Linked DNA regions of Homo sapiens: region 2 is linked to region 1. The links come from fine-mapping of genetic effects on gene expression. Tissue or cell type: subcutaneous fat. Region 1 holds a variant in brackets; the other region holds the start of a gene. All regions are shown on one strand. Distances are from middle to middle.

Evidence for each region. PIP is the estimated chance that this variant, and not a neighbour inherited with it, causes the effect.
Region 2: it holds the start of COG4, and the variant in region 1 is fine-mapped to the expression of COG4 in subcutaneous fat (GTEx, PIP 0.99).

What each region holds. Positions count from the first base shown.
Region 1 is chr16:69,951,436-69,954,191 of GRCh38, forward strand. It overlaps CLEC18A (C-type lectin domain family 18 member A), which reads left to right. Exons shown (of 12, transcript NM_001370523.4): 1 at 1-55; 2 at 600-691. Among named protein-coding and RNA genes, the nearest start is that of CLEC18A, 1.5 kb to the left of the region's middle. RefSeq lists an enhancer at 1,059-1,672. The variant A/G (reference allele first, on the strand shown) is at 1,420.
Region 2 is chr16:70,522,023-70,524,632 of GRCh38, forward strand. COG4 (component of oligomeric golgi complex 4) reads right to left here and starts at 1,532. Exons shown (of 19, transcript NM_015386.3): 1 at 1,351-1,532. The coding sequence starts at 1,521. It overlaps SF3B3 (splicing factor 3b subunit 3), which reads left to right and starts at 1,794. Exons shown (of 26, transcript NM_012426.5): 1 at 1,794-1,906. RefSeq lists enhancers at 1,165-1,304, 2,338-2,610.

The sequences.
Region 1 (2,756 bases):
GCCTGGGCAGAGGTGTGGCCACCCCAGCTGCAGGAGCAGGCTCCGATGGCCGGAGGTAAGGGACACCTGGTGAGGAGGTAGGTGGAGGCACCATTACGAGCTCTGAGGAGTGGGTGCTAGGAGACTTCTGGAAGCCCGGTCCCAGGCCTGAGCCCCAGGCCGTGCGGGTGGTTTAATGAGGAAGCCCTGGGACAGCCCGGGGGCGGTGAGGGGTGGATGCTGGACTGGGGAGGAAGGAGGAGGAAGGAGGACCAGGGCTGGGGTCAAGGAGGAACGCCGAGGGGCGCTGTGGCTGGGGCCTGGAGAAATCCGTGGCCCGGAGGAGCCCCAGACAGGGGCCTGCGGGAGCCAGGGCTGGCCCCTACACCCAGCCCGCACCGCTGTTCCCTCCCGCCACCCCAACCCCAGCACTCAGCCCACGCCTGCTGTACCTGGTCTCTCTCTCAGCCTCGCTCCATTGCTATGCCCCACGTCCCCTGCACCCACCACACTCCTCTCCCATCTTGTTTTCCAAGGGCAGGGACACATGCTTATTCTGCCGTGTGTTGGGTTCAGGTCCCCCCATCCTCGGGCTGCCTGACCTTCTCTCCCCACCCCAGCCCTGAACAGGAAGGAGAGTTTCTTGCTCCTCTCCCTGCACAACCGCCTGCGCAGCTGGGTCCAGCCCCCTGCGGCTGACATGCGGAGGCTGGTGAGTACCCGACCCAGCTGGGCTCTGCCAGGGGGGTGGCCGGAGGCGCGGACCCCAGAGGGCGGCTCAGGAGGCCACGCCTGTCCAGGTGCCCTTCCACTTGACCAGGGTGGGCAGGCACAGCCAGCCACCTTGTCCCTGAGGGACGGAGGCCCTGGTTGCTGGGGGTCTCTGCAATTTCTTAACCCCCCACCCTCAGTTCAGGAGGTCGGGCCCCTTGGCTCCCACTCGCCTGAAGGGCAGGACCTTGGGCCTTCCCTGGCATCTTGTTGTCACAGAGACCAGGAGCCACAGGAGGAGCCGGATCCCCTCCTCCAGGGAAGGGGAGCTTCACGAGGAGCCCTGCAGGATGGGCGGCCGGGCCAGGGAGGGAGAAGGTCGTGCTGGGCTGGGGAGGGGCTTCTGTGCGGCAAGGACCCAGCGCCTCCTCCTGAGCTTATCTGAGCCACGAGGACGGGCCTTGCCCATGTTCTCTGCTCACTCACTCGTCCACATTTTCCACATTTTCAGCAGGGGCCGGGGGTCGGGGGTATAGAATTCCCCACCAGCCCGGCTGGGGCTGCGGGGTTGGGACTGTCATCTGGAGGCTCAGAAACGCTGCCCCCCCTTGTCTGGGACCCCAGCAGCCCCAGCCCATGTTAGCAGGCCAGGGAGCCAGGGCAGGGTGGTGGGGGCGGGAGGGTTCCCCATGGCTGCTTCCCATGAACTCCTCCAAGGCAGGCGGCCAC[A/G]GTGGCGACCTTGAGCACTCTAGGGTCAGTTTCCCAGGAGGTGGGGGTGGGGTGGCTAAATGCGGGGGGTCGCTTCTCCCCGATTCCCAGCCCTGAGTGGCTCTGCCTCTCCTCAGGCTCAGACCCTGGGCAACCAGGGGTGCTCCCAGCTGTGACCTCCGTGGTTGGGTACTCCTGCCTGGGACCCCAGGAGGGGCTGCGGTGGTCGTTGGCTGGCAGCTGGCACCCTTTCCAGGGCCCTTTTGTCAAAGTCCTAGAAAACTTCATTTCCGTAAAGGTGCAAATGGAGCTCCATGGCTCAGCCTCCCTCGTGGCCCGGCCCCGAGCACCCTCCGGGCCTCTAGGGCTCCAGGGCACCCCCTCTTTGGACACAGTGGAGACTGAAGGTCTTGTGGGGGTGGAGGGCTGCTGAGGGACCCCGGGGAGCCCCCAGCTCCTGGCCCCAGCCTTCATCAGAGGTAAAACCCCGATGGACATTAGTGCAGGATGAAGTTGGCTTGGGGTGCAGCCCCGAGGGGCCCCCCTCCCTGCATCCACTCAGTGCTTGTGAGTCCTATCCTGCAGGCACCTCCCTGCTCCGTTTACAGATGAGCTCAGGGAGTCTCGGGAGATCAGGGGACTGCACCAAGTCACCCAGGGGTGGTGATTGCCAGGCCCACTTGTTTAAGAAGAGGGAGGGGGCTGGGCACGGTGGCTCACACCTGTAATCCCAGCACTCTGGGAGGCTGACACAAGCAGATCACCTAAGGTCAGCAGTTTGAGACCAGCAATGGCCAACAGTGAAACCCCGTCTCTACTAAAAATACAAAAATTAGCCAGGCGTGGTGTCACATGGCTGTAATCCCAGCTGCTTGGGAGGCTGAGGCAGGAGAATTGCTTGAACCTGGGAGGCGGAGGTTGCAGTAAGCCGGGATTTCTCCACTGCACTCCAGCCTGGGCGACAGGGTGAGACTGTCTCAAAAAAAAAAAAAAAAAAAAGAAGAGGGAGGGGGCGGGGTCAGCTGTGCGTGGTGGGGAGCATATGAGGCCGGGCTCCTGGGGGCAGGAGACTAGGGCAGAGAGGCGTGGCTGTAGGGCTTTTTGCATCACAGGAGGGCAGCATGGCCGGGTGGGAGCAGTGGAGCCTTTCTGACAATGGCCAGGGCCCAAACACAGAACCAGTCTGCAACGCGTGGGCACTGCTCACATGACCAGATGGGAGAAAGACAGCAGGAGCGGGTCCCATTGCCTGGGCAGGGCCGAAGGATGCCCACGACAGGATTTGGAGATGGAGGCTCAGTCGTGAGAGGAGCTGGGCTCCTCCTGGAGGGACATCAGACAACACCAGTGCTTCCTCC
Region 2 (2,610 bases), 570 kb after region 1:
ATTTTGCTCTTGTTGCCCAGGCTAGAGTGTAATGGCGCTATCTTGGTTCACTGCAACCTCCGCCTCCCAGGTTCAAGCAATTCTCCTGCCTCAGCCTCCCGAGTAGCTGGGATTACAGGCATGCGTCACCACACCCGGCTAGTTTTGTATTTTTAGTAGTGATGGTTTTCACCATTTTGGTCATGCTGGTCTCGAACTCCTGACTCAGGTGATCCTCCCGTCTTGGCCTCCCAAAGTGCTGGGATGGCAGGCGTGAGCCACCGCGCCCCGCAAGATACTAAATTTTAAAACACATCTTGCTGAGGCCAGACAAAAAAAGCCCCACACACTAAACTAGCCAGGCACGGTGGTGTGCGCCTCTGGTTTCATCCATTCTGATTGCAGCACAACAGCACTCCAGCCTGCGCAACAGAGAGCGGCCCTGTTTCTAAAAATAACAAAACAAAACAAAAAACACCACACACATCTTGCTGAAAAACGTATCAGAAACTGCTAGAGTTAGTGCAAGTTTATACTTGAAAATACTCAAAGATATCAACGATCACCTCTCCCTCAGGCTGAAACTGCCTTTTGTGCTCAACTTTGCTAGAAGTTTGGTCTGGGAAACAGCTGACAAGCTTAGAGCTTAGATCTCTTTTGACTAGCAAGGAACCCAACTGACATTCGAAAGTGAATTGACAGCATCGAGTTGCCACTGAAAATTAAAGGAGGCAGGAAATAGAACGTTATGAACTGAAAGGAATTGGAGAATAGTCCACACCCCTCATTTGATAAAATATCAAGGGTACCAGAGATGAAGTGACTTGTCCAAGATTAGAGAATTGTGTCTGAGTCTTAAAAGCTAAACCTCTACAAAGATGTGCATTTGACCAAAACGCTAAAATCACACCCCCAAATCACTCCCCACAAGAGGAAGTCTTAAAACGCTTCAAGAAGTTAATCTGCAAAGGCTTCCCTCTTAAATAACAGGATGAGAGCGTTTCATAATTTGTAAATTAAGCCAATGCAAAAGGGCGCTTATTATTTTGAGAACCAAGCAATTTGGCAAATACTCTCAGACTAACTTTACTCCCGTGGAGAAACTGGTGATCATGGATCAGGGAAATCAACGGGGGTCTAGGGAGGAGAGGCTGCAGATCGCCCAGGTATCAGGGAAGACAAGCTCGGCGCGTCCGACAGCGTGAAAAGAGTTGACAGGACTACTCATATACCCGACTAGCTTCCGCTTCTTTGTTTTCCCGCTTTTTTGTATCCCCCAGCAAGGAGAGTTTCCCACAGCCCGGATTTCCCGACTGAAGGCTCCCACTCTCCCTAGATCCTCCATGAAAAAGAAGAGGCTCGACCCCGCACCTCCTCGCCGCAGAGCCGTTCGTATACAGCCTCCAGCTCCTGCAGCTCTGTCAGGGAGCGAATGAGCTCAGCGGAGATTTCGGAGCAGCGGCCACCTCCCACCCCCTCAGACGGCTGCTGCACCCCTGACAGCTTCGGAGGCGAATCAAGGTCCGCCATCTTGGTCCCCATTCGGCACTTCCGGTCCCGCGAGGCCCCCTCTTCGTTGGCGCCTATTTGGGGCTGCCCACAGAAGTGCCCAATGAACTCTAATGGTTTTTTTTTTTTAAAGTCTACTTCTAAAAACGTATTAATTTTCTATTCTCCTGGAAAAAGCAAAGCAATAAAGCATGTTTAAATAATTTGTAATGCCGTGTGGAAGCAAGACGGAAGCATTTTTTAAAAATTATATATATTCTTCAGGCGCGGATTGGGTGCCTTTTTCCGCCGCGCGCCACCAGAATGTCCCTGTCTTGAGGTCTAATGGCGGACGCCAGTATGTTGGAGTTGGTGGTGGCTTAAGTTTTGAAGGGAGGTAGCATCCGTTGGATATCCACACCATCCTTCTCGCTGCAGGGTAAAAAAACAGCCTGGAGACTTCCCCGGGCCCGGGGAGGCGGAGACCGGCCATATGGAAGGGGGACCCGAGACTTTGGCGGGGGTCACGGGCAGTCTAGGCCCGAGAGGCTGGGGACCAGGAGGAGGTACCGAGGGATGGTTGAGGCGCCAAAACGGCTTCCTGCAGTTATCTCTCGCTTCCATCCACAGTGTGGGAACATATTCTATCTCAAAATAGGGCTCGTGGAGATTGCTTTTAACTTCTGGGGACTCTGAGACGGGGGAGGTGTGACAAGCAGCGGGAGGCATGGATGTCTCCCTCTGGGTAGAGTAAATGGTACACCGAGGGGAAGATAGAAAGATGGAGCGTGTTAAAAGCGTAAATAACGGAAACAGTCTTTAGAGCCAAGACTCCGGTTTGAATTTGTATTTTGGTAGTTGGGCAACTTGTCTCCTCCTCTGAACCTCTATTTTCTCGTTTGCGTAATGGAGGACAGAGTTTAAATGCGATGATGTTTCCTTGGAGGATGGAGAAGATGCAGTGAGCAATCATACAAGCTTTTTGTAATAATGGTAAACAGACGTGGGGGAAGTTTTTTTTGTTTTGTTTTGTTTTGTTTTTGTGACGGAGTCACAGTCTGTCGCCCAGACTGGAGAGCAGTGGCGCGATCTCGGCTCACTGCCATCTCTGCCTCCCGGGTTCCAGCGATTCTCTTACCTCAG